2 separate regions of the Homo sapiens genome follow, and region 2 is linked to region 1. Evidence: fine-mapped expression QTL. A gene starts in region 1. The other region holds a variant in brackets. All regions are shown on one strand. Distances are from middle to middle.

The links.
Region 2: its variant is fine-mapped to the expression of NUDT6 in whole blood (TOPMed, PIP 0.98).

The regions. Positions count from the first base shown.
Region 1 is chr4:122,917,037-122,928,631 of GRCh38, forward strand. NUDT6 (nudix hydrolase 6) reads right to left here and starts at 5,561. Exons shown (of 5, transcript NM_007083.5): 1 at 5,299-5,561; 2 at 465-668. The coding sequence starts at 5,536. It overlaps AFG2A (AAA ATPase AFG2A), which reads left to right and starts at 6,042. Exons shown (of 16, transcript NM_145207.3): 1 at 6,042-6,269; 2 at 10,598-10,722. The coding sequence starts at 6,107. RefSeq lists enhancers at 5,705-6,241, 6,034-6,403.
Region 2 is chr4:122,949,145-122,966,516 of GRCh38, forward strand. The region is part of intron 9 of AFG2A (AAA ATPase AFG2A); the gene reads left to right. Among named protein-coding and RNA genes, the nearest start is that of AFG2A, 35 kb to the left of the region's middle. The variant C/A (reference allele first, on the strand shown) is at 8,843.

The DNA.
Region 1 (11,595 bases):
CTTAAGAGTTTTTTTCTGGAATTTTCCATTTAGGTCATAATGCCTGTCATTCACCTCACTTCACCTCATCGTGCAGGTGAATACAAAAGGGTGAATACAAAACAATATTTTGAGAGAGACCACATTCACATAACTTTTATTACACTATACTTTTATAACTGTTCTAATTTATTGTTAGTTACTGTTAATCTCTTACTGTGCCTAACTTATAAGTTAAACTTTATCATAAATATGTGTGATAGGAAAAAACATGGTATATATACATAGGGTTTGGTACTATCTGCGGTTACAGGTGCCCACTGGGGGTCTTGGAACACATCCTGTGCAGATAGGGTGGAACCACCGTAATCATTTAATCAAATAACTCATTCCACATGAATAAACTATTTGCTTAGCTGTAACAAGCAAGAAATTGGGTGAACGTCTAAAAAGTTAATTCTGCTCATCATGAGTTTGAAACTGACCTGCAACTCCTACTTGATGTGAAGCATATCCTGGTAATCTGCTGGGCCCTTCTCTCAGCCACAGAGTCAACGTTGATGAATCCGATTCTGCGTGGTGAAAGCAGAAGCCCAGGGAAGCAGCAGGGGCAATAAATCGGCTTTGGAGGATGGGAATGTGCAGCCATACAGCTGTTCTACCTTCTGATCGCCATTGCTGTACTGCAGCTAAATGCAGAAGAAAAAAGTCTAAATAATTTCCAAAGAGACGAGTGGAATAAATTAAAACTCACCTCAGGGTTTCGCCTCCTCCAGGAAACCATCTTTAAGCAAAAGAGGTCCCCAAATGTCTTGTTCACATCGCTGGCACTGGAAGTACCATGTTTTATAGTAACCACCTTGTTTATATGATTTTTCCATCAGACTGAATTCCTTCAGAATAAAGTCATTACACTGCTGACCTTTATATCCATACCACCAAAGACAATGCTTGGCACGTAACAGATGTTCTGTAGTTTTAGAGTGGACAAATAAAAGGATTTAAACCGAATCAAATACCATTTGAATGCTGTTCCTTTTAACATCCTTAGGTTTAATCTTAAAGACAATTATGGACTTCTATTTTTTTCTTCCTTTAGGAGTTCTGTTATAATGTTTTTAATGTATAAATTTCAAGGTAGTTAAACTTTGTTTTTAAATAATGTATGCTGGTTGTAGAAATTTTGAAAATAAAAAATATGAAGAAATCAAACTTCACATTTTACTAGCATATAGGAATAAAATTCTAATTTTTCCTTATTATAGATAATATCATGGTGAACATAATTATAGGTTTTCTATCTTTGCCTTCTTTAAATTCTCTTTACTACTTAAGATTGAGCCAGGGGAAAAAGATGCTAATATCTATTTGAAACTTACTAAGTTCCAAGCACTTTATATATATTATCTCATTAAGTGCACAACCATGAAAGGTATTACTACCTTAAGTTTATGGGTGAAGAAATAAATACTTCAGATTTAGAGTTTTTAGAAAAGCTTTTCAGATCACTTTCTTCATCCATCATCTCACTTAATCTTTATAATAACGCTATAAAGCGTGTGTGTGTGTCTGTCTTTGGGGGTTGATTATATATCAAATAGTTAATTAACTTTCCCTTCTCTTTTCCCTAGCTCTGCAGGAAGCTCCTCTCTTTAAGGACAATGTTCTCTACCTCTTTGAAAGTTGCTGTGCCTAGCACAGTGACAGGCACATGGGGCCTTTAATAAAGACTTCCTGATTTGAGTTAGCATGCAGTGGAATTATGGGATCAGGTCCTTCTCACCTTGCTCTCTTTGTCTGATGACATCTTTTAAAAATTGAGGTAAAGTACATAAAGTGAAATGTACAAATCTTAAGTGTACATTTCATGCGATTTGACATATGCATATGCCCGTAACACACTTTAACATTATAGAACATTTCTATCACTCCATACATTTCACATGTGCTCCTTCCCAGGCAATCCTTCCAATCAAATTAAAAGGCTACTTTCTAAAAGCAATGCTATTTGCTTGCTGTTTTATATCTACACTCTGTGTCTTGGAGAATCCACTCTCACTGCTTCAGCTGATACATACATGAGGATGGCTGCCCAGCCCTGACCTCACTGAACACTAAACTTTCTGTTCTCCAGTTGCTCCCAGACATTTCCTGTCCTGAAGGTTACCACTTCAGACTTCACAAAGTGTGTTCAAAACTGAATCTTTTGTTGTTGTTGTTGAGACGGAGTCTTGCTCTGTCACCAGGATGGAGTGCAATGGTGCAATCTCGGCTCACTGCAACCTCTGCTTCCTAGGTTCAAGCGATTCTCCTGTCTCAGCCTCCCAAGTAGCTGGAATTACAGGTGCGTGCCACCATGCCCAGCTAAGTTTTGTATTTTTAGTAAAGACGGGGTTTCATCATATTGGCCAGGATGGTCTTGATCTCTTGACCTCGTGATCTGCCCGCCTCGGCCTCCCAAAGTGCTGGGATTATAGGCGTGACCCACCGCGCCTGGCCAAAACTGAATCTTACACCCCAAACTAGCTTCATTTATAAGCTTATTTATTTCTGGCACCAATGCTTGAAACCTTAGAATCATTTTTAAATTGCTTTCTTCTTTTCCCTAATAAGCTTTATTGCTTTTTCTTCCCTCACCTCCCATTCCCATTGCTAATATCTATCCTTTAAAGTCCAGCTCATATTCCACATCTTTGACCAGTCTTTCCTAACCACTGCTCATGAGCTCACCATTATGAATTTAAAGACTACTATGTCTGTACAATTTATTAGAACTTATTACATATGACCTAATGATATCTCTTCCATTAGCTATTTTTTCCAATTCTATTTAATATTCCATGCATTTGCAATCCTCCAGGGTAACCCTACATTATGCACTGGGGCTCAATTTGTACTAATGAAATGACTGGCTTGCCTAAAGTCACATAGCTGGTGAGTGGCATAGCAGGGACCAGAACCAGTGCTATTTCATTACTGATGCAGATATGTTATGTGTGAAGCTAACAACATATTGCCTGTTTATCCCTCTAACTTCAGTTGTTGGTAACAAAACATCAATAGTTCATGTTCTAAAAGAATATGAATAGTTGACTTCTTATTCCACCAAGAATATGGACTTCTTAGTCCATAAAGACTAAGAATAGCGGACTTCATGTGTAAATAGTCTCTCTTTATAGGCACTACCATTCAGTTAGTTTTGTTCAATTATAACAACAGAACCAGCAGGAGTTCTTCAAGGTAGCATAGTGCAGTAAGAAAGGTGTAGAGCCAGGGCAAGTAAATTTTTCTCTCTGTGCCTCACTACTGTCATCTTTAAAATAGGAATAATAATGCTATCTACCTCAAAGGGTTGTTAGGAGGATTAATTACTATTTATAAAGATCCTAAAACATCTACCATTAAGTGCAACAAAATTTGTTTTATTGAAAAAATATAACAAGTATTTGGTACTTAAGTTTACAAATTAGTTTCATCTTTGATCAACGCATCTATCCAGTAATTAGAGCTGGCGTTATTCACAAAAAGCAAGCTAAGAAGCAAATATTTTTGGTGGCAATTTGCCTAATGCCTGGCTAAGCACATGGCAGAACCTGGTACTTAAACCCAGAATGTGCACCTCCAAATCGCACAGCTTTCTGCTTTGTCATGCTGACTGGGGTAGTGCTTTGATCACCTGTTTGGTCATTGATAAGTATCAGTGGGTACAACACCTGTGTCTACCCACACACTGGAAGATAAAACGATTGATTCTCCTATTAGTGACACTGTTGCAGTATAAGCGGGCTTGTCAGCAATTACTAGCAAGTAGGAGAGAAAATAATGTGAAGAGGTAAGAAGTCTGGGAATGAGGATGAGTAAACATTGAAATAACTAGCTCAATTATATTTACAGATATGCTTCTTGCCATATTGCTCAATAGGATAAAGATTATTTTGAGTTTCCAGTGTGAGAGATTTTTCCATAGTTGAATTTGCATGCTATGCCTTCAATTAGATTATAAAACCCTCAGAGGCCGTTTGAAAAACTGCTGCACCACTAAATCGACTTCTTCCAAAGTGAAGGCTCCTCCATCCAAGCTTTCTTATCATTGGGCTCAAGGTTGAAAGCCAGTAAAAAGTTTTCTTATTGAAGACTGAAACCACCCACCACCGTCCCTGGTTAATCATAAAAGAAGCGTTATTCTAAAAAACTCCAGTTCTCGCTGAGACAGCTGTTGACCCAATTTGTATACAAATGTGACACTCTGAACCTCTCTGGTTTAGTATTTGATAGCCCAACAGGGTGACTATATTCAATAAAGATTCAGGCTGGGTGCAGTGGCTCCTGCCTGTAATCCCAGCACTTTGAGGGGCCAAGGCGGGAGAATCAGTTGAGCCCGGGAGACTGAGACCAGCCTGGGCAACACAGTGAGACACCGTTTCTAGAAAAAATAGAAAAAAGCCAGATGCGCGCCTGTAGTCCTAGCTACCCAGGAGGCTGAGGTGGGAGGATTGCTTGAGCTCAGGGGTTGGAGGCTGCAGTGAACCCTGATCCTACCACTGCACTCTAGCCTGGGAGACAGAATGATACCCTCTCTCAAAAAAAAAAAAAAAAAAAAAAACAAACTGTACATTTAAAAATAACTAAGAGTAACTGGATTATGGTTGAATGCTTGTGGTGATGAGTATCTCATTTACCCTGATGTAATTATTACACATTTATACCTCTATCAAAATAGCTCATATACCCCATAAACATACACACCTACTATGGACCCACAAAAATTAAAAATAAAAAAGAAAAGCCTCTTTGGTCCACTCAGTCCACCACCCGTATTAGAATGTAAGAGTTTTTTTCCTTGGGAAAAGTGTCCGACAGAACCAAGGCTCGGTAAAGGATACTAATAATGTAATAATATAATATTAACAAACATCTACTGAGCTTTAAATACGTGGCAGGCACTGTGCTGTGCACTTTATGTGCATTATCCAAATTAACTCTCAGTAATTCCAGGAGTTCTTATCACCGGGGTCTGTGGAAGAGGAAATGGTGGTTTACGGCAATTTCCGAATGTCGCACAGTAGAAAGTGGACCAGCAACCAGGGTTGCAGATCCCAAAGTCCGGGATCTTCACCATTTCACCCAACCGCCTTAGAGACCTCCCAGCAAAAGGTCTAAGCACGAATGCTCCAGAAAACAGGTCCAGGTCACGCGTGCCTTCTCCCTTTCCCTCTGGGCTCGACAGTGGTGCACAGAGCGACTAGGGAGTGGGGGCCGCGGTTATTTCATTAGAAAAGCTCTGGAGCCCCGGGAGCCCTTCGTCCCAGGCGCACTTGCCCTGCAAGCCCTTCTGGAAGGCGGCAGCGTCCAGGCGGTCCAGCGCATCGAGCCGCGCCAGGCGCACCGAGATGCCCCCGAATCTGTCCAGCTCGCCCTGCAGATCGCACGCTCCAACTGGCGGATTCCGCACGTAACCCTGTGCGCCCGAGGCCCAGCGGTAACCCGCCGAAGGCCCGGGGCCGTAGGTTCGGGCAAGCATCGCGCGCCAGCGGCCCCAGCTCAGTGGCTGCCGCATCTCCACGCCGCTTAATTCGTCCGTTGCCCAAATGACCCCTCCGCGCTCCAGAGCGGAGATCGCGGCCGTACATTTTAGAAGAGTGCCATCAATACCCTCAGAGTTGAGCTGGGGTTACCACTCTGCAGAGCTATGCCAAGGAGACCGCGAAGTGGTCCACCAGCCCTTCTCAGCAATTTGCCCCGCTCCAGTTAAGCGGGGAAAACCTCCTCCCCCACCGCCACTCACTTATTTTGTTTGGTAGTTTAATTCAACAGACGTTGGTTTAGGGATGGGGAAGCCGGGAGGAGATGCAAAAACGTCCTGTTTTTCAGGAATTTACAATCTAAGTGGCAGTTCCGTTCCTGGAACCTATCTTCTTTCACAGATGCCGTTACAGCTGTTTCAAAGACTGCTGGTTTTGAAAACGCTCAGTCCCTCCCACCACGCTGTGCACTGCTGCGCTCCACTCAGGGGATTACGGCGCAGGGGCGGACCCTCGCTGACTTCTGCCCCGGAAGTTTTTCTCTCAGTTGAAGCGCGCACATTGAGTCGGCTTTTCTACTGCTTCGGCTAGGGTACCTTGTGACCATGTCTTCCAAGAAGAATAGAAAGCGGTTGAACCAAAGCGCGGAAAATGGTTCGTCCTTGCCCTCTGCTGCTTCCTCTTGTGCGGAGGCACGGGCTCCTTCTGCTGGATCAGACTTCGCGGCAACCTCCGGGACTCTGACGGTGACCAACTTATTAGAAAAGGGTAAAGAATTCCGGGTGGGAGACTAGAGGCCGAGGGGGCGCAACCTGAGGGGCGGGAGACTCAGTGATACTGACTTGGGGTGCAGAGACTTTTGAAAGTTGGGCGTGGCATGGGTCTGAGAGCGGCACAGAAGCGTGTAAGACTTCTGTATGTAAGAAGCATGCAAACGTAGCCGCGCCTGCACTGGAGAAGTTAGGCTGAAATGGTTTATCCGTGTCCAAGGTTTCTCTTTTGTAAATTATTTTGAATTTTTAAGTTGCACTTGAAACGCTTTGTCTCATTTAACATTAACGACACATTTAATTGCAAAATTGTTCATAACTAGCGAACATGGGATACTTATCCTAAAAAACTAAATAACCAATTCAGTAAAAATGTGGATCACTCTGCCTTTAGGAGTGATGATAGCATTTTCTTCCAGTACTACGCAGGTTATGATATTTAATAACTGCTAGTAACTGCACACTAGTGTTAGCAGTATATATAGCTCATCTAATTTCTACAGAAGCCGTGACCGATGGGTATAGTAATGACAGTTTTATAGAGGGAGGAAAGTTAACGTGATTCCATTCAGGCTACACAGGTGCTAAGTGGCAGAGCCGATATTTGAGTCCAGATGTGTTTGACTTAAAAGCCATTCCTAGATGACAGCTCCTTTGATTTGGGAGAACGTATTTATACTGAAAAGTCTTATAAATTGAATTAAAAATTGAAAATTTATATTTGATGTGTAATAGCTTTGAAAAATGGACCAGACTAGTGGCAAAAACTTTTATGTCTAATCAGACCTTAAAGACAATTTAGAGTTCACATGGTATTTTCACTCTGCCTTAGGTATCAGAGGACAACTTGTTCTGTCCTGAAGGTTCAACTTGTTTTTGAACTAGATCCTTCCCATTGACATGTAAACATGCTCATTTCTCTTCCATCTTAAATCAGAACAAAAGCTCCACATTTTCTTCCTGCAACCGTCTCTCTATCCATTGCCAAGCTTCTTAAATGGAGTGGTCTCTGCCGCCTCACCACTTACATACTCTCCCTAGCCTATTCCTCTTTGACTTCCACCCCATCATTCCATGGAAACTGTTCCTGGTGTGGTCTCCGAGCATCTCCGTGTTGATAAACCTTACGTGACCACAGCAACTTTTGGTATTGTTGACCATTCCCTCCTTCTCGAAACACTTAACTTCTTATGTGTTGTCAAACTTGCCTGGTTTTCTTCATCTTTGTTGATGTTTCATCATTTTTCTTTGCAGGCTCGTCCTCTTCCCTTGACCATTAAATGTTGAAGTTCGTCAATTCTTAGTCCAAAACCTTTTTTTTCCTCTCAATAAATCCTGTCTCCTTGGCAAGTTCATCCAGTGCCCAGAGTTTCCCATCTATAGTCTCTTCAGTGTCAGATTTATATTTGTAAATCTTTTGTTTTTGCGCCTTGATGTGGTTGCCTTTTAGCCAAATGCTTCTCAAGCTCTCTGTGGTGAAGACTTTAAAATTTATAATAGGTCACAGATCAGCACTTTTCTAAAATACAGTAAAAATGATTTTCTAGAAAAATAAGGAAAAATTTTTATTAAACAGATGTGAAATTACTCTGTAAATTTCAATAAAAGCTTCTATATACTTATTCTCCTGTTTTGTACTTGTCATGAAGCAGTAACAAATCGTTGTGGGTCATATTTTGAATAGCACTGTACAATAACTCTTCTCATGAGTGTCCCAAAGATACTTCAGGACTAACTTCATGAGCCCGTTATTTCCTCCAACAAAATAAACTTCAACTCTGTTCAGTTTTTCCCGCTGCAAAATTCAGAAACCTAAGAGTCATCCATGACTCTCCCCCCCATATCTCACATACCTAGTCCACCACTAAATCATGTTTATTACCTAAATATTTTACATATTCCTCTTCTGCATGCCATTCCCACTGTTTCTACCTTAATTTCAGACACCATCATCTCTCACCTGGACTGCTACAACAGCCTTTTGACTGATTTTCCAGCTTCCAATTTTGCCCCTTATTCCTTTTCCATTCTGCAGCCAGAATGATCTTGTAAGATGAAGATCTTGTCATGACATTGCTTTTCATCCCTTTCTGGGCTCCCACTGCTGTCAGAGTAATGACCAGCATCTTGATGCAGCCTATTGCACTATTGTCCTGGGTGGTCTTGACCTTCTTTACATGGCTTCCCTATGTCTCCACCACTCTGCCTATACTCTCCTGAGGATGCGCCATACCCCCTTCTGCCCAGGAACTTTGTACATGCTGTCCTCTTTGCTGAGAATTATCTTTTTCTTCTCCTCATTTAGTTAGTTCCTACTCTTCTTTCAGACCTGATCTTAACATCACTTCCTTTGAGAAACATTCTCTTATTTGAAATTAGGTCAGATCCCACATGGCTCTCCTGGCACTCTAAGTCATTTTTTCATTGTATTAATCTTAGTTTATTATTTTACAGCTATCCACTGATTGTTTAATAACTCACTCATCCTACAAGGCTATAAACTCTGTGAGACCAAGGACTTGTGAACAAAAGTGCCTAGCATAGTATCTTTCATATAGTAGGCACATAGTACATATTTGCTGAATGAATAAATGAAGGGTGGATGGTTGTTTGAAATTATCTTTACTATCTTGTTAGTTAATGTGATACTTAAGGTGCTCAATAAATGTGAAAGTAGTTAATGGGGAAATTAGATGTTGACATATTTTTAAAGTATTGGAGGAGTGAGGTGAGAAGGGAACTGTGTGGACAACTTGAGTAGACCTATATAGTGTAAGCAGAGAACACGTTGGTGATGTTTTGGAAAATGAGACCAGTGGCTGGGAATTTGAACATGATTACCATTGAAAGACAAGGTGGAGAATAAATCCTGGGACATGGAGAATGTGCTGGATAGGGTGGAAGGAGAAGAAGAAAACTAAAGTCTTGGGAAGGACTGAGAACACTTGTGTGGTAATTGTCAAGAGGGAAAGATAGTTCATTGAGGTTTAGGAAGAAAGAGGCAGGAACTGAATATTATGAGATCATCTAACAGCAGTATGCTTTACTGTTAATGACCAGCAAACAATGTAAGAGAACTAATGCTCATTGGAAGGTTGAATTTCTGTCCAGCTTCTTGTATTATGCAGTATGTGTTCATTTCGTTTTATACTCAGTGCTGTTCATCTTAGCTCTGTGAGATGCTTTGTTTTTCTAGATTTGCACCTCATATAAGAAGGAAAAGAAATGTGTTGGGGAGTTGTTTTGTAGTGACAGAATAATGTAAATCATATGGGTACCTTATGGTTTTCCTTTCCTTGATTTAATTTCTTTTTTATTACAGAATATCTGTTTTCTGATTATTAAGGAAAACTTAGGTAGAGCTCTGTGATTATGGTATATATGTTTACAATAAATTTTATAATGAAGTTGTGACATTTTTAAATTCTCTAAGTGTTTCATAGATTTTGTGCTGAAAAGAAAACCATTGTATACTTATTTACTACATTTATTCATTTTATGGCTATTTATTGTGCAACTGCTATATTTAATGCACTGTAAGCATTGGAGATACAGAGAGAAATAGGACCCAATTCCTGCTTCAAAGCAGTATACAATTAAGGAGAAAGACTAAAACAAATGAATATTATGGTAAATGCTATTAACTGGCAGCACAGAGTGCTGGAGGAATTAGAGGAGGGACACCTAACTAAATATGGAGCTTGGTGGGGGTGGGGTGGATAGAAAGGAGTGGAGATGACAGCACATCATTTTCAGAGGTGTTGTTAACTGGCCTGAATTCTGGACCCCCTTTTTCAGCCAAAAGTTGAAATCACTAGTGGTGTGTGTTCGTATAAGGAAGACGACTTCTGTTACTCTCTTTACGTATTCTTGGTAATACAAAAGAAAAAGATCTGGTGACCATAATGTGGGGCAGAAGTAGAAACATAACTTAATCCTCTAGAGCCAGATAGATGTGCCAGTTCCCAGTTCAATCCTTTGAATACTAGTAGCTGACTCAACTTTGAACTTAAAGCTCAGAGACTCTCTTTTGCAATTATGTTTACTTCTTAATGAAATTAGAGACTCAGAAAAAAAGAAACCAATACTCACCCCATAAAACATCTTCTTTTTAGTTAATACTTAATATGTTGCCAGTAGACCCTCAAAAGCATTTGATTTTAAATCTGTTTTGTTATAACAAAAGTTGGAACACTAGTTTCTCCAGGGTATGGTAAGTACATTCATGTGGTTATATGGTTAGAGTATTTTTATTTACTGCAAAAGAAAGCATGCCTTAACTTCTGTTACAAAGTAGTACAAAAATAATTTTCTTTTCCTTCATAGTAGATGACAAAATTCCTAAAACATTCCAGAATTCCCTTATTCATCTTGGACTCAACACTATGAAGTCTGCAAATATATGTATAGGTCGACCAGTGTTGCTTACTAGTTTGAACGGAAAGCAAGAGGTAAGAGTCTTTTTCATTTCCTTAGTTTAGAAATACAAACTGAACATTGCAAATCCAAGAATCTAAACTCTGAAATGCTTTTGAGTGCCATGGTAGTCAAAGGAAATGCTCATTGGAACATTTTGGATTTCAGATTTGGGATGCTTAGCCAGTAAACATAAGGCAAATATTCCAAAATGGAAAATTCAAAACGCTCCTGGTCCCAAACATTTTGGATAAGGGATACTCAACCTGTGTTTGAGATGTTTCTGATTTTAATTTTCAACACAAGCAGGAATAAATGAAAAACTGTATTTTAAAAGACATTAACATGTATATTAACTCTGTTCCTTTGCTGTCTATGACTCTGCTGGGCATAGTAGCCCCTAAAATGTTATGTAGAGAGAAGTGTTGCCTCCGGCGATAGTGACAGTATTTCTCCCTGTCAGTTAGTTATATTTCTTTATAAAAATATTATTTTGGGGGTAAGAAGGTCACCTGTTCTGTATATAAATATTTTACTATTCTCCCTTGTTTCAGCTGTTTCTCCTTGCTGTCATTTTTCATACCTGAGATTCTAAGCCTGGAACCTTTCCTGGATCATTTTTGGCAGCTTGGCTTTCTTTTCTGCTACCAGCCCCTTATCTTTCATGGCTTCCTTTGATGCTTCTCTGATTTGCTGGGGATCCTTTGGAAATACTTTGAAATTTTTTGTCTGCTGATGGCACCCCTCCTATTCTTTTCATTTTTCTGGCTTATGCTTTAAAGGTCCTTTACTGTGTCTTTTAGAAGAGAGGACTATAAATGTGTGAGCTTAAGCTAGAAATTTTCGCTCCTCCCTCTTAACATTTAAATCTGATAAGACCCAGGTTCTGACAAAGCTCTTGTTCTGTG
Region 2 (17,372 bases), 35 kb after region 1:
TTAATTAATCCATAGGTTCCGCCCTTGTGGGGGCAGTTAAGATGTCCAGGGCCATGCAATTTTACAAAGAAGGGTGCATGACACACTATCTCTGTCTCACTGCTGTCATCCACTCTAGCCCATCATTGTGTACAGCCTACCTACAGTGGGGAGTGACATTAACTTGCTCCTTTACCAGGCGGAAAATATGCCATCTCACGTTGTTGGTGGTGGGAAACTTGCTGCATGAGGTGCTGTTGTCGCTGAAGGGGAATAGGTGAAGGTCACTATACCAAGTATCGAAGTGGCCCCAGGTACTCATGTTAACTGCCTTGGTGTGGCATGGCAGGCCCACAGCGGAGGAGAGGGGGAGCTCTCCGCAGACCCAGCAGTCTGTTTTCTTCTGGAGAGAGATAACCATCTGCACCCAGTCAGCAAAGAGGTTTGCGGCACACCATCTATGGGCAAAAGGTGAGTTGTTTAGTGGGTACAAGAAAGGACAAGTCCTGGCCATTTAACAAGACATGGGGAGTTGTGTCATTCTGAGAGAGCACCACCCCTGGCAGCAGCCTGATGCCTGGTTTACAATACCAAATGGACTGGCTCCCCTCTGTAATGTGTTGCAGGAGGCCAGAGGAAGACAGTGGAGGTATAGTGTTTCATGAGAGGATGTTCATCCCCTTGCACAAGGGAGGACTAGGATTCATTATTTTAGAATTACAGTGGAGAGTATGGTATGAAATAGGTGTGACATATATATCCTGTTCTAGGCCCTTCCCCCATGGAGCAGAAAAACTGAACCATCGGGCTGGTTTGCCATTTCCCAGAACCACGTAATGATGTGCTCCCCAGTAGGTTGGTCCTGTGGCAAGGGCCATAGCAGATTACTTTGTGTCCCAGGTTGGGGGCAAAGGTCTGCTGTCCCTTACCCTGTCTACCTGTATCCTGATGGTCGTATCACATCCTTGTGTTAGAAGAGTATACATGATGGGGTGATGAGAATGTGCATATTTATTCAGTTTGTGCACGGCTGCTGGTAAGCAGCGTGTCCACAGAGCCAACTCCTATAGGAGTTGTTTCAACAGTCCATTCAATTTGTTCAGTCAGCCCCACTGCTGTAGGGTTGTACGGCAGGTGAAAATGCCAGTGGATATCCAGGGCCTCTGCCTATTCTTGTACTTTATATCTGGTAAAGTACGAGCCCTAGTCATTGTTAATTTTTTTTTTTTTTTTGAGATGGAGTTTCGCTCTTGTTGCCCAGACTGGAGCGCAATGGCGCGATCTCGGCTCACTGCAACCTCCGCCTCCTGAGTTCAAGCAATTCTCCTGCCTCAGCCTCCTGAGTAGCTGGGATTACAGGTGTGTACCACCACACCTGGCTAATTTTTTGTATTTTTAGTAGAGACAGGTTTCACTATGTTGGGCAGGCTGGTCTCAAACTCCTGACCTCAGGTGATCCACCCGCCTCAGCCTCCCAAAGTGGTGGGATTACAGGCGTGAGCCACTGTGTCTGGCCCATTGTCACTATTGATGGAGACGCTGTAGGCTGCACACATCTGTTCTGGTCCTTTTATGGTGGCATGCTTGCTGGGTTATGCTCGTTGTAGCCCTGTGCAGGTTTCTGCACAAGTTAAGGCATAGTGGCAGCCATCCAATAGGGGCAAAGATCCTATGTAGTCTACCTGCCACCATTGTGCTGGGCTCTGGCCCTGGGTGATCTTTCTGGTATCAGGTGGCAAGGGCCTGGGGTGTTCCTGTGCACGGGTAAGACATTGCTGACAGATGTGTACTGTGTCTTTGTATCATAGTGGCAGGCTCCAATTCTTTGCTATGGCCCAAAGGGTAAGTTGTCCCCTATGTCCTGTCTTCTTTTGTAACCAGTTGACCACATCGTCTGTGGGGACTCCCTTGAGGAGACGAATGCAGGTTAATTTGTCTGCCTGTTGATTTCCAGGTTGGTGTAGATGCAGTGTGGGGATCCACATGGTAGATCATTTTATGCATCCCCCAGATGCAATGGGGAATGTCCTTCTACATGTCAGGGCACCAAAGGAGGTGACCTGCTACTGTCTAGTCCTGTGCTTCCCATTGTAGTAGCCACATGGTGAGTCCCTTTACATTGGATTAGGTAAAAGTAATCTAGAGATTATTTAAATTATATGGGAGGATGTACATAGGCTACATGCAAATACTGTGCCATTTTATATAAGAGGCTTGAGCTGTCCTTAGATTTTGGTATCTTAGGGGTCCTGGAACCGATACCCCATAGATACTAAGGGATGACTGTATCCTATCAGACTTTTCCAAAGTACACACACACACACACACACACACACGCACGCACACACATGTAATCAGATGCATTGTTGGCAGTATTGATGAAGACAATATTTATTGATATATCGTGCTGTGGAAATCAGGGAGAAATGTGTACTGGAGAATCACAATTTTCCTTAAGGAATGTCATGCCGGATGCCTGTTAACTTCAGACAGCCCACCTGTGAGTACACAGGACTGCTGGGTCTGGCTTATAGAGGAGGACCATCCTGGCAGCTTGCAGCTCAGCTCATTGGCTGCTATGTCCTTGGCCTGTATCATCAATCCAGATCCTGTCAGTGGATGGCTGGATGGCTATGCCTGCTCAAGTGCAAGGATTGCCTCGTGACAAGCTGTTTGTGTACCAGGCCTGGTCAGTCATTGGGCGGTCAGACATTGGGCCCTGTCTATCCTGTATGAAGGAGAGCATCTGTGGAGGCTCAGCAGCCTCCCTAAAAGACTATGTGACAGTTGTTACATAGATGACAGGGCCAAGCACTGAATGGAGCTCTGAGCTCAAGGGGCTATTAATGTGCTCCTTTGTTGCAGGTATGTAAGCCATTTGGCCACAGTCTGTGTCTGGGCATTCCCAGACTTCAGTTTCTGGAAGATACCCTTTAGCCAACCTGCTTTGGGGTACTGGCTGCATACTAGCATCAGGACCCCTTTTGTAATGTCCTCTACTTGTTGTAAGGCATAATGTATAGCACAGAGTTGTTGTTCCATCACACTGTATCTAACTGCACCCTTTTTCCGTAGCTGGGACCAGAATCCTAAAGGCGCATATGTATGTCTCTGCCTTTGCCACGGGCCTCACCCAAACCCCTCAAGGTAACTGGCTACATCTAGTTCACAGGCTGTCTCTGCACCTGAACTCACAAGGCTTGTATTTATTTCACTGTGACTTCAGCTGGTTCAAAGGCCTCATCCTTCTTCGTGGATTAGTCTCAGTGGGCCCCCTTCTTGACTAAACAGTATAGGGGTCTAAGGAGTTGGGCCAAATGAGGAATAAAATGATGCCCATACCCTAGGAGTCCTAAGAAGATTTATAGCTGCTTTGGTGTCACACGATGTGAGTAGGCCTGCACCCTATCCATAATGGCAGACTCAAGTATTTGGCTGATAAGCCTGGACTCTGGATTTTTGTCTGTGTTTATAGCTCATCCTGTTTGCCAGATGAGGCAGCAAGGTGTGAGGGCGCAGTTTGAAAGCTGGAAAAAGACTCAGAAGTTAGCACGATATCATCACTGTAATGGAAAATGTGTACCCCTTCCAGGACCTCCATGGCTATATAAATATCCCTGGGGCAAGATGGTAAAAGTCTATTGTTCTTCCCAGGTGAATGCAAATTGGTCTTGACTCTCTGCGGCAATGGGGATGCTGAAGAAGGCATTGGTTAAATCAGTAACAGAGTGGTAGTGGTATGTGTCCAGTGCCTCTCCCGCCCTCTTTAGAAGGGAGGTGATATTGGGAACATGTGCATACATTGGGGGGACTGCCTTACTTAATTCCCAGTAATCTAGTGTCATTGTCCATGTCCCATCAGGCTTCCACATGGGCCGTACATGGCTGTTGTATGGGCTGTGCACTGGCCTTGTAATGCCTCCTTGGGCTAACTCCTTAACAATCCCTGTGGTTTCATTATGTCCCCCCAGCAGGCAGTATTGCCTCAGTGCTACTACTTGCTGTGTGGGGTTGGCAACTAGACTGGTGTCCATTTCGCATTCCCCTTGGTCACATGCTTCACCACTCTCAGTCAGAACTCCCCAGCAGTTGTTTGGAGGGTCAAGCCTGATAAGATATCCATTCTCAAGATGTATTCCAAGATGGGAGCTATACATACTAAATAGGGTTTTGGTGGCAGTCTCTCAACTTGTAATACTCAGACAGTTCAACCTTTCTGATCCCCATCCATAACCATCTTTTGCCATTTTAGCCCCTTGGAACCAACGAATGTCACCATATATGAAAGTGCATTTGGCTCTAGTATCCACTAGGGCACGCACAGTGTGTTTATTCTTAGGCGACCAATATATAGTTAGTTCTACATGTGGCCTCTGGTCCCCAGGTACCCTGGCCACCATTACTCTTATCAGGGTTCTGGGGCCTTGGCTTTCATCCAGTCTAACAGGGTTGACACTTGCTATCCCTCTGCAGGAAGGGTGGCGGGCTGAACCTGAGGCTCCTTAGTGAAGCACTCTTCTGGTGTGAGCTTCTGCCACAGTCTGACCAGAACAGCATTAGGCTGTTTATCTGTTTTCATAGTAGCTGTTCCTGCCACTACCAGGTTGTGCCACATTTGTTGGTCAGTCACCCTGATGGGCCCCTTGGCCATCTCCTTTCCTTTGGCGCCCTTGTCTTTCATCCCAGCAGCACGTACCCTTTGCCTATGCAGTTTCTCCATTTCTCATAAGTTGGTGGCTGCTTGGGCCACCTGAGACACTGGCTGTCCTACTAGGGGGCTCTGGGTAGACACTAGCACACCATACCATTGGTTGAGTGCAGACTAAGATGGTGTCTTTCATGTTGGCAGTGAAAAGCTCTTTGTTGGACCTTGGTGATGTTCAGCATAGATAGCATGTTTCATCCCTAATTTCCAGATGATGTCCTGCAATTCCTCCATAGTCTGCCATCACAAAGGAGATATGGGGATACTGCCCTCATCTGGCCACGCTTCATTGCAGCCCACAACCACCCAGCTAAGGAGGGGCATGGCCTGATCCTCATTGTTGGCACCATAGAGGTGCTGCCTCAGGGCTGGGTGGCATGCGATGTATGCCATTCCACTCATCTTGAGTCTGGAGAGTATAACACCCTCCATCCCCGTGTCCCATAGACAGAGAAGCCACCTCTCAATCAACTGTCTCTCTTCCTGAACCCACCTTCTGCCCAGCTCCACTAGTTCCATAGTGGTGTAGTGCTGCATTGTGGTATGCTACCATCTTTCAGGCAGAGACAAGTTTTGTGGGTCTACTCCCTGCAGGCACCATTGGTCTGACTTTATCTTGGTAGAGAGAACAGGACCTCTATGGGCTTATCCCAGTCCTCACTCTGCTCCTCACTAGAGCTCTCCACTGGGTCCCTGGACTTAGGAAGATTTAGTCATATAGTCCTAACTTGGCATGGGAGCTGGCGACCCTTCAAACAGGCTACCTGACAAGCTGGGATTTCCATTTTGTCATCCTGTTTCTGCAGGTAGGACAGTAGGGTCTCTGATGTTTTAGGTTGAGCTAGTCTGGCATCTCTTTCTACTCATAGTTCTTCCTATAACAGACAACCCCTGGCCTGTGCTGGGAGCTCAGCCTCAGTGGCTGCTGGGAGCACAGTCAAGAATGGCCAGCCATTGTGGCTGCCACAGCTCAGGCATCTAACTTTTGCTTAGTTAGATCCACCCCCTGCAACAGCTCTTCCAGACCCTTCGGTGTTTTTGGGGTGTTCTGTACTCATACATTGGGTCCCATCCATCAAGGATAGTGGCTTTTGGGCACCACATAAATGTGATGGTCAGCCCGGGACCCCCCCTTGGATTTCCCCTTTCCTGATCTTACGGTCTCGGTGCTCATGAAATTTTTCTCCACCTTCCTGCTGGGTTCACCAGTTGTGGTACTGAGTCCGTGTTAACTTCTGTAAGGATGGCACCAGGTTCAAGAGGCAAAAGAGACCTGGAGCTAGCAAACAAGACATAGGGTTTTATTAGGGAGAACTAACATACAGGGACAGTCCAGTGGTGGTGGACTAGACAGGAGAACCTCAACTGCTTGCAAAAAGCATGCAGCTTATATAGCACTTTTATTTGGCACCCTCCGTGCAGCAGCCTTCACGTGGCAACCCTCCTTTCTTAAGTTATTGCTCTCAGGTGCATTTGCCATACACCCACTCCCACCGTAATGGCATTAATCCATTCCTGAGGATTAATGTTGTTACGGTCTCATGGCCTAATCGCCTCCCAGTGGTCCTACCTCTTAATACAATAAAAATATCAATTAAATTTCAACATGAGTTGTGGAAGGGACATTCAAACCATTGCAGTTATTTTAGAGCTTTAGTTCAGAAATACAAATGCAATAACTTTTACCTCCAAATCATTGACTCATAGTTGTCTAATTTAGTAGGCTTTGAAGACCCTGCCTTTAGTCTTTTTGACCTTTTATCTGGACTGATATATGTAGGGAAAGAGGCTCAAGAAGGAAAAACAGTTAGGAAAAGAAAACTTGGAAGAGATATTTAGGAATCTTTGAATATCTTACTGTTGGTGGAGAAAATCGTTTTTCTTTCATTTTATTTGATCATTACCACAATTTCTAGGTTATAGGAATCACAGTTGGGAGAGACTGCAGGTTATGTAGACTATCAAGGCAAATACAAACATTCTTTTGGTACATTTTGCTCTAGGACTGGGTCTCACTCTGTCTAGTTTCTGTGAAGCTGCTTCTAGCGTCACAGGGATTAGTGGGCCTGGTCGTAGAAATGGATTACCTAGGGATCAAAAAGCAGAAGTATCAGTAGATAGCTTTGCTTCTTTCATTGCATAAGGTGGTAATGAAGAGTCTGGATTGCTGTGTAGGTGTTGCTCTGTAGGACTTGCCATGTTCAGCATGCCTTACTAGAGACTTTTTGACTTTCTAATACATTTTATGCACTCTAGAAGGCTCTGGAATTTTTGCTGTCCAGAAATACACTGTCTGATGAAGGAAAGAGATTTGTAAACAACTACAAATATAATGATAAACTACTCATAAAAATGTAAAAATGTAGTGACTTCTGTGAGGAAAGCAAATACTGTGGTTAAATAGAAAAAATGACATCTAAGAAGAAGCTTAGAGTAGGAGTTCTACAGTGAGAAAGTGAGAAAAGGAAAACATTATTTGATTGAATCCTCCTACCAACCCTGTGATAGAAGTATCAGACAGACTCAAGAAAGGCCTCAGAGCGAGTATCCAGCAGAGCTGGGATTTAAAGCCAAGGTCATCTTACTTCAACTTCATGCTCTTAATTAAAACTAATAAAAGGTGGATCTTGTTTAGAGGGGTATAAGACTTTATAATTTAATTTTAGCGTATGATACTAAGGAGAGCATCAGTTGATAAAGTAAGGAGAGCATCAGTTGATAAAGTAGAAAATATGCAGGTGTTGAACTGATCTATTTTCCCCTAATCTAGCAATGAATCAGATTATGAAGAGTAGTTTTATTTATGTATTTATTTATTTTGAGATGGAGTCTTGCTCTGTCGCCCAGGCTGGAGTGCAGTGGCGTGATCTCGGCTCACTGCAAGCTCCGCCTATGAGGAGTAGTTTTTAAAAAGATTAGTGTTCTAATTACAGAATCCAGTAGGGAAAATATGTTTGGTTTTGTGTATACTGTCCCAAATACTAGTGTATGTTGTATTATGTAGTATCATTTTCTTAACTTTATATAGCAGAATAAAATTTGAAAACAGTATGCTGGAATTTTTGCAAGAGAATTTTCTAATGAGGCAGGGTGGTATAGTGTAGAATAGGTTTTGAGAGTTGGACAGACTTGCTTTTAAAATCAGGCTTGTGATCTTAGACAGGTTCTATGCCTTATCTGAGCCTCAGTTTTCTCCATTTGTAAATTGAGGAGATTGGAGTAGATGATATTTTAGTGTCATAATGCATTATGACATTCCCTGGACGTAAGGGAGAACAAGAAAAAAATGGAAGAAAAAGAAGGATAGGAAGAATTAGAAAAAGGAAAGGGAGAAAGAAGGTAAAGAAAAAGCCCTAAGCCTCTTCAGGCCTCATCGGCTATTTTCAGTGGTCTTCTCTTTTGTATCTGTGTGAATGACTTACACTTATGTAGTTAGGGTTTTCCCATGGTGTTCTTAGAAACAGTGCTATAAAGCAGACTAATGTTGGTTGTGAAGTGCACTGCATTTTCTCATTGGAACAGTTTTATAATTTCTGACTAAAGACAGAGTAAATTACCAGTTTGATTAGTAGTGTGACTTAGAAAGCTGAAACAATTGGGAAACTATAAGCATTTGAAGTAGTAGGACTATGTTCCAAGTGCTATAGAATAGGCATAAGTGTATCCCACTTATCGAACATAACAGCAGCATTCCTGTTTACTATGATGTGTGCATTGAGCATAGGGAAAAACATTCATTCTGCATGGTAGATTTGAACTACTCTCTTAGCTTTAAATAAAAAGAATTGGACATTTGGTGTTGCATTCCACCTCAGGTTACAGCAGTTATTAGGGAATAATTTGAGTTGCTCTCAGTCCTTTGAAATAACTGCCTACACAAGTTTGAACTCACATCTGTTTTTTGTTGTTGTTGTTGTTGTTAAACATGATAAGTTTCCTTGGGCAGGTGCAAGCAGTCACAATCATTACACTGATCTTAGAATTACCCAGAAAGTTAGAATAATTGTTTTTTTAAAGAGTCATGGTAATATCTTAATATTTGGAGGCAATATTAATGACTTCTGGTATATTATAGGTGCTCAATAAGTATTTGATTAGTTGAAGAATAATTTGAGAAATATGTGTGAAATCTAGGAGACATAATTATTACCCTATACA[C/A]CCTTGATAAAGGAATAGTGTTTATTAATTTTAGAGTTGAGCTTAGTTTTGTTTGTAAACACCTTGGGAATCATCTCTTTTTTTCCACTCTTTGTTGCCTTCAGAAATCTCTGCTTTGCGCTGAGGAAAGAACTCTGAAGTGGTTATTCCTGCCTTTATAAGTAGCAATGAGCAAGTTATATGTTCTGTGTAATCTTCAAAAATGTAGGACAGTGAGGCTGCTTTAAATAACTGGTTTTAGTCCATTTTTGCCTTCCCACTGACAGATTTCCAAGCTTTGGCTCTGATACGGCCTTTAACTACATTTGTTTAAAACAAGTGCTTTTCAGGAGGTGTTTTCATTGTTCACCAGTTGTGCTATGTTTAAATGGAGTGCTTGTAAATGGCCACTGGCATATATGGGTAGTTAAGGCATCTTGACCAGATTCGTGAGTTTGACACTAAGAGACTCCATCTCCAGATGTATTTCTGGGTATGTAGGTTAAATCTATCTCTTTCTATTATTTATTCTTCCCCACGGAATTCAGGTTTGTTTCACATGTTTTTAATTCAGGACCAATCACTTAGAGCAAAGAGTCTTAAACATTATTATATGAGAATCACCTGTAGAATTTACTAAACTCGGTTACTGAATCCCCCTGACAAGAGTTTCTGATTCAGTAGGTCTGAGCTGGTGCCTGAGAATGCTAACAAGTTCCCAGGTGATGCTAATGCTGGTGCTAATGCGGCTGATCTGGAGACCACACTTTGAGAGCTATTGACCTATAGGGCATTAGTTCCTAAACCTCATTATGCATCAGGCTCACCTGGGAAACTACACATTCACTCATGCTCACAGTCACATTCCCACTCATAATTAAGTGTTTAAGGGAGTTAGGAAGCTGGAGGCAGGATCTATAATGTTTTCCAAGTGATTTTGAAGCAGCCAGTCTTGCCCTTGTCTGTGACTGGACATTTGATTCGCTGATTTAGGCAAGTGGTTCTCCAACCTATGTAAGAAGCATTTGTAGAGCTCGTGAAAACACAGTTCTGGGGTCTATCCTGCTGATTCCTGTAGGTCCAGAAGGTCCAAGTGGGGCCCCAGATTTGCATTTCTAACAAGCTTGCAGGTATGTCATTGCTGCTGGTCCAAGAACTGTACTTTGAGAATCACTGATCTAGGGCAACCAACTACCCAGTTTTTGGAGATTCTCTAACTGATTTAAATAACTGGATTAAATTTAGGGATTGAAATTCTTTGACCGTCTCTAATAGTGTTGTTGCGTTTCCTCCCAGAAGTTTTTTGTGATAGTAATGTGCTCTTCCAAACTATCATTTAACTTTGCCACTCAAGAGAAAATGAATGTCTTAAGTTTTTCAGTTATGTATAATGGTTCCGAATAAAACTTTAAAAGTGGCAAATAATTCTGAAAAAAAGTCACAAGTAAAACAGTTAATTAACAATTCAGAATACAAGTAAGAGTACAGACATGTGTATTTCCTAGTTAAGATTGTGGACCTGCATGTTTGTGCTTTTTATATGTTGTGTCTCTGATGATTTTCCCTCTTCTGGACTGCCGCATAGTGAAGGAAGCTCTGTACTTTTTAACAAAAGTTGTGCACGTATGTCTAGTAATGGCATGAATTGAAGTGATTCAGAATTTCTTAGAACATAGTGAGCTATGCTTCCTGATTGTTTCTGTAATCTAAAGGTTATTGTTTGTAGGATATGAATACAAAACCTCTGTAGTGTTTGTGTAGATTGTACATGCCTTTTCAGAGGATAGAAGGTTTACAATCCATACTTTGTGAGAGTGATAATGCGTCTTTTACAGTGTGCTTACTCTCAACATCTCTAATCTTTTATTCCAGGTTACTAAGTATTTTCCATATCTTTTAACTTTGTTCCCATAATGAATATGAAAATTGGAAGCACTACAATAGGAAGTGTTGCTTTCAACCCTTAGATCTCACATTATCTGAGCAGATAACAACGTTTGGTGTTTGTGATTGGGTGTGAAGCTTATTTTCAAAAGTTATATTTTCTTTATAATTAATTTTTTAGCTAGAGTGTGGTTTGATATGTCGTGACTTGTCCAAAGAGCTAATGTTTTGTAGTTCACCTTTTTAAAGCAAAGAGCAGCTGCATTTTGAAATGTTTTATCTCAAATGGGCAAGTTGTTTACAAGCTAGACTCTAACACATCCTGACATTTAGTGTCTGTGTTTGTATTCCTGCTGGGATTAGGCTGCCTTTCTAATTAATTAGTTGCATAGCCTTTTATTAATTCCCTCAAAATTTATAATGTTTTAAATTAACAACATAGATAAGCATACTGCATTTTTTGGGAAAACATGAAATATTAATTATGTAGCAGTGACATAAGTTTCGTAAACTCTGTTGAATGTTAGAAGATGCTTACAACAATGTTTTCCAAATATAGGGATTTATTATAAACTTATCCTTCTAAGGCTGCCTGTGCCATTTCAGGAGAGTGAATATAAATAGATCTTGATTTCTTCAAGAAGTGGACTTAGTCATTTTGTTTATGGTGAAAGGAAGTATTTGCTTTGCGTCTCTAAGAATTGTCTTTAGCATCCTTGTTAATTACACATCATTTCAACATGTTCTTACCAAATTCTCAGGCCTTGATAAGGTAGCATAACAGAACAGGAAGAATTAAAACTCATATTTAAATAATTATTTTGTTATTACAGCACTTAAATCTGTCTAGTAGCAATACCGAATCTAATAATTGTAACTTTTTCTGAGATGGAAAATTTTATCTCTTGTCCAGTGTTCTGAGATATTTTTAGCTCATTTGTCCCTCCACCCCCAACTAGCTTACTTTAACAGGGATTTATGGAGCATCTGCTATGTATGTAATAGTCCAACTCTTATGAAAGGTTCTGTTTCTAATATTTTTTACTATTTTTTCAATTCTGTCAACGTTGTTTTCTAAGTTAGAATTAAAATATTGATACTGTAGAAATTTGATATTTTAAAATAAAGTCCAGGGAAATAATGGGACTTATTGCAAAGCTTATGGTGAGCTCTACATTCAGATGCTATCATTATACTTTATCAGCTGATAAACATTGAGCAAGCTATTCAACCTCTTGGGTTTTATATCCTCACCAGCTAAGTAGGGATAACACTATATGGTTTTAAGAGTTCTTATGAGGTTTAGTAATATAGCCTGGCAGCAGTGGTGATGGTTTATATAGGCCCTTGATAAGTGTCACTTAATTTCTCCTTTTCTTCTTTCGCCTCTGGAAAATTGATATTTAAACATTTTCTAAAAATTGTATTTTACGTATATTTATGCATTTCTCTGGTAGAAGCTTGTTTGGATTTTGGCAATTTTTCTGATATGAAGTGTTCTTGATTATCCTAGTATAAAAGATAGGGAACTCTGGCAGAATCCTTTGCTTTGCTAAAGTAGTGATTTTCACTGAATCTGAATCAGTAAAAATCTTGCCCGTCAGTAAGAATATGCAGACTAGAGATATGGCTTGTTTTTGGGTAGCCTCCTTGACAGATTTTCTTTCTTTTTGAGACGGAGTCTTACGCTTTTTGCCCAGGCCGGAGTGCAGTGGCGCAGTCTTGGCTCACTGCAACCTCTGCCTCCTGGGTTCAAATGATTCTCCTTCCTCAGACTCCTGAGTAGCTGGGATTACAGGCATGCACTACAACGCCTGGCTAATTTTTGTATTTTTAATAGAGACGGGGTTCCACCATGTTGACCAGTTTGGTCCTGAATTCCTGACCTCAAGTGATCTGCTCACTTCAGCCTCCCAAAGTGCTGGGATTACAAGCATGAACCACTGTTCTGGCTGACAGATTTTCTTGCTGAACTTTGGGTCATCCCAGATGTGAGTTCGCTGTAGGCGTGTCATAGAGCAACAGTAGTAGGAATACAAGTTAAATTGATGTATATGTCATGATAATCAGTCCAATTCAGTGGTCCCCAACCTTTCTGGCACCAGGGACCGGTTTTGTGGAAGACAGTTTTTCCATGGACCTGGGGTGAGAGGGTGGGGATGATATCCGGATGAAACTGTTCCACCTCAGATCATCAGGCATTAGATTCTCATAAGGAGCAGACAACCTATTTCCCTCACGTGCACAATTCACAGTGGAGTTCACACTCCTAGGAGAATTAATGCTACTGCTGACCTGATAGGAGGCGGAGCTCAGGTAGTAATGCTTGCTCGCCTGCTGCCCACCTCCTGCTGTGAAGCCCAGTTCCTAATAGGCTAGTACCAGCCCATGGGCCATTGGTTGGGGACCCCTGCTCTAATTAATGCATTTTACAAGGGACGTATTATTGTAGCTAGATAAATAAGCAGTAATTTTGCAGCATATTTCATAAGGCAATGAATTTTCTCCTCTGTTTTATAATTCTAAAATGTAGTTATAGAATGTTATATTTGTGATATTGGGATTTGTCCTACTGTGTAAATATTATGGATATTATATAGAGATGGAATTATTTTTATCAGTGAAGTGGGTATTTTAGTATTACTTTTGCTACTCATTTGAGATGACTGGAACTGAATGGTTTGTTTCAGAAAAAGAGGTGGTAGTTTTGATTCTGTTTAAGCTCTAAATGACATATACTATTTACTTTGCTAGTAGAAGATTTTCTGGGTTGTTTTGCCAAGACTATAAAAATATAAAACTTGAGGAAAGGTTTTCTTTCTAATTAAAACAATCACAAAAATAAAACCAGGCTATCTAAATAAAAGTTATTTCTGAGAGTTATTCTTGATTCTTTTTTCTCTTACTCTTTTTTTATCTAATCCTGTCAGCTCTGTTTTCATACTTATTCAGAATTTGACCTCTTAAAAAAATTAACTACTTTCACTGCTATACCACAGTTCACACCATCATCAGCTCTTGTCTGGACTATTGAAATACCTTCTTCCTGCCTACTGTTTCTTTTTCACCTCTCATCTATCTTTATTTTTTACATTGTCTAACTTGGAAGACTTTGAATTATAGGTTTTGAAGATGAGGACAGGTCTAGGTTAGAGATATGGACTTGGGAGTTGTTAGTAGTTAACATGGTGAAGCTGTAGAAAGAATGAAATCACTAACAGAAGGTGAGTAGAGTTCCTTCACTCATTGAGCCAGGTACTGCACTAGATGGTGGGGCTACCTCAATGAATAAGATAGACTTGGGCTCTCTCCTCATGAAACTAAGACTCACAGGGAAATGGAACAGTATATAAGATAAGTACAATACAGTGTGTTGGGTGTTATGTGAATGATCAGGGTGCATTCAGAATGCTAATACAGTAGAAAGGTCTTGGGAAATACTGTCATTCAAAGGTTGGGTTGTTAAAAAATATTTGGTATAGGAAACTGAGGAGTGGCTAGAGAGATGGGAAGAGAACCCAAAGAAGTGGTGACTCAGATGAAATGAGGTAAGCACTCAGTGAGGAAATAATGGGTATTGGTTCACACTCATTGAGTACTTGGATTATGTCAACCACTGTTTGAAGCACCTTGTATGTACTAACACATTTCTTCCTCACAGCAGCTCTCTGAGGTTCTCTTTATTTTGTAGTTGAGGAAACTTATGTCAGATTAAGGAAATTTCCCAAGATCACACAGGTAATAAATAGTGGAACTAGGATCAACAGTGTTGATCACAGTAGAGACCACAGTTACATAAAGTGCTTAGTTCCCTACTTGGGAGGTCATGGGAGTGTGGAAGAGAGACATTCTAGTGGTGTCTTGTGCCTAGCTGCTGGATTGCAATAAATTGAAGGGTGATTGATTGAGAGTTGAAGAAGCAGATATAGTGATTGTCAATTTCTTTTTTAGTTTTGTTGATGTATTATTATTAATATTTAGAGTTTTTATGCTTTCCATAAAAGAGGGATAAATATAGTTAGTCCTCCCTCCTTGTCATCCCTCCCTGTCTCCAGTAAAAACCAAATCTAACTATATTTCTTTATTATTTTCCTGGTTACTCTTCTCTTACCTGGGCCCTGACTTAGTCTACCCAGCTGTGAATCTTCAGCTTCTCTTGGCATACAAATTGTACTCTAATCACCTTTTTTCAAATAACAAAAACAAAAACAAAACTCAGTATTTTAGTAAGGTTGTTAAGCCAGGTAGGTAAATAATGAAATATGAAAAATTTGAAAATGGAAACTGTATTTAGGGCAGTTTGAAACCTAGGACTGGTGAAGTGAATTAATCTTGATGTTTTACAACTATAGGTTGGTGCAAAAGTAATTGCGGCTGGGCATAGTGGCTCACACCTGTAATCCCAGCACTTCGGGAGGCTGAGGCGGGTGGACCACTTGAGGTCAGGAGTTCGAGACCAGTGTGGCCAACATGGTGAAACCCCGTCTCTACTAAAAATGCAAAAATTAGCCGGGTGTGGTGGCACATGCCTGTAGTCCCAGCTGCTTGGGAGGCTGAGGCACAAGAATTGCTTGAACCCAGGAGGAGGAAGTTGCAGTCAGCCAAAATCATGGCACTGCACTTCAGCCTGGGCAACAGAGCAAGACTGTCTCAAAAAAAAAAAAAAAAAGTAATTGCAAAAACTGCAACTAGAATAGAATAATCGACTACTCTTTCAGAGATAATTTAGTACATTCCCTTATTTCACAGATGAGGAGAGACTATGTGATACATTTAAACTCAAGCAGTTAGTGAGAAATAAGCCTTGGCTTAAGGTTCAGATCTGGAGACAAATGTGCCTTCCACAGTGCCATTACCTTTAAAAGCAACTTTTGAAAGTGATAGAGGGTTTGGAATAGACTGGCTCCTTTGATCAGTTTAAGTTACAGCAGTCACTTATAATATAAATAAGGTGAGAACTACAATAACCTTTAAGGATATTCTATTTGATTTTTTAAAAATTTATTTATTAATGGGCAGTGAGAAATGAAACTTTCCTAGTGGTACAGCAAGTGATACTTAGCACCTTGTCTATACTTAATACAGAGTTGAGGGAGAATAAAGACTCCAAATAAAACAAATTTTTTAGAGTTCTGATATTTTGAGGAAAGTACATTTTAAAAAAAGGAGACTTAGATTTTTGTTATACTTGCTTTGTTTTCATATATGTGAGTATATCATTAGCAAATTTTATGCTCAACTTTTAGAATTTAAATATGAGATCCAGATGTCCAAGTTTTATGTTACCTTTTCATATAATTAAGTTTCTGTAGGCAGGTAGTAATTCTAAAAGGGATTGTTAACTTCTCTGATCAGTTTAATTTTATTGTTAGTTTCTAATGAAGGAGCTTAATTGTGATCTCAAAAATAACATATAACTTAGCAAGCACTGAGTATAAAATTGTAGGATTTTATAAACATGGGGACAAGATGATGTTTGTTGTTTGCATCTGGAGCAGATGGTTTTGAAGAGCATGGGTTTAGAATAATTGCTCTTGTCCAGAATTGGTTATATTGAAATATTGATGTAGAGCTTGAGGTGGAGCAAGTCATATACAAGTCATACGTTGGAAACAGTGTGTTGACATTTGGCTCTCTAAAGCATTTTGCCTTTTCTTCCCTTCAAGGTATCTTGTTTTCCAGTCTTAAAAATTTTAAGAGCACTGGAAAATAAAATAATGAAAAGAAGATGATACATTTTTTGTTGAATTAGCCACACCTCTTTTTTATTTCAAAATTGTGTTTCTTAACATAGCAGTATTGCTTCTGCATTTGCTTACATTTTTAAAAAATTAACTCCAAAGTTAGTGAGAAGAGGAAATGTTGATGGCTTACTTTCAACCATATTCCTTGATGTACATGTGTCCATTTGTTCTTCTAGTTAATTGTCTTCAGGTTTCTAAAAATATATGTATTTTTAAAAATTTAATCTTTCATTATGGGTTCCAGTATGGCCTTATTAGAAATGGTGATGGCCAATAATTTAAACTTAGCATCATAGAATTTTAAGTTATTTAAATTTGAATAATTAGACAAAATACATTTTAATCTTTTCATTTAATAAATGAGGTAACTGATGGCCAAAAGGGCTAAGTCTTATTTAAAGTTGTGCCTGAGCTAGTTAATGGCAGACCTAGAGCCATGGAGGATTGGTTGCATTAGTATTATAGCTCCAAGGATCTTTAATTTCTGTAAGCTCTTGATAATATATTTAACATTTAATTCATACAAATTCTGTTTTTCAACTTACATGTTATTTTCAAGAATAGCATTTGTTGTGTAAAATAGGATACGTTTATATAGAGTCCAGAATCAATACTTCAGAGTGGGAAAGAATCTGAAGGCCTGTGGCAGGGGTCTCCAGGATCTCTTACGTTTTTATAGCTTTTGCAAATCAGTAAACTTACCTATTGTTCTTTTCTCCTTTCTAACAATCCACCATACTTTATATCCTCACATACCTACAAACGAAGTAATAGAGTTGGATGTAGGTTTATTTAAACATGTTCTTTCATATGTATAAGACTGAACTCTGGAGACTTAGGATTTTATCTTTTATTATTCTATAGGGCCTCCTAATCTCTAAAGTGCTATGCTCATTCTTGTCTCTATTTATATGCTGTTCCCC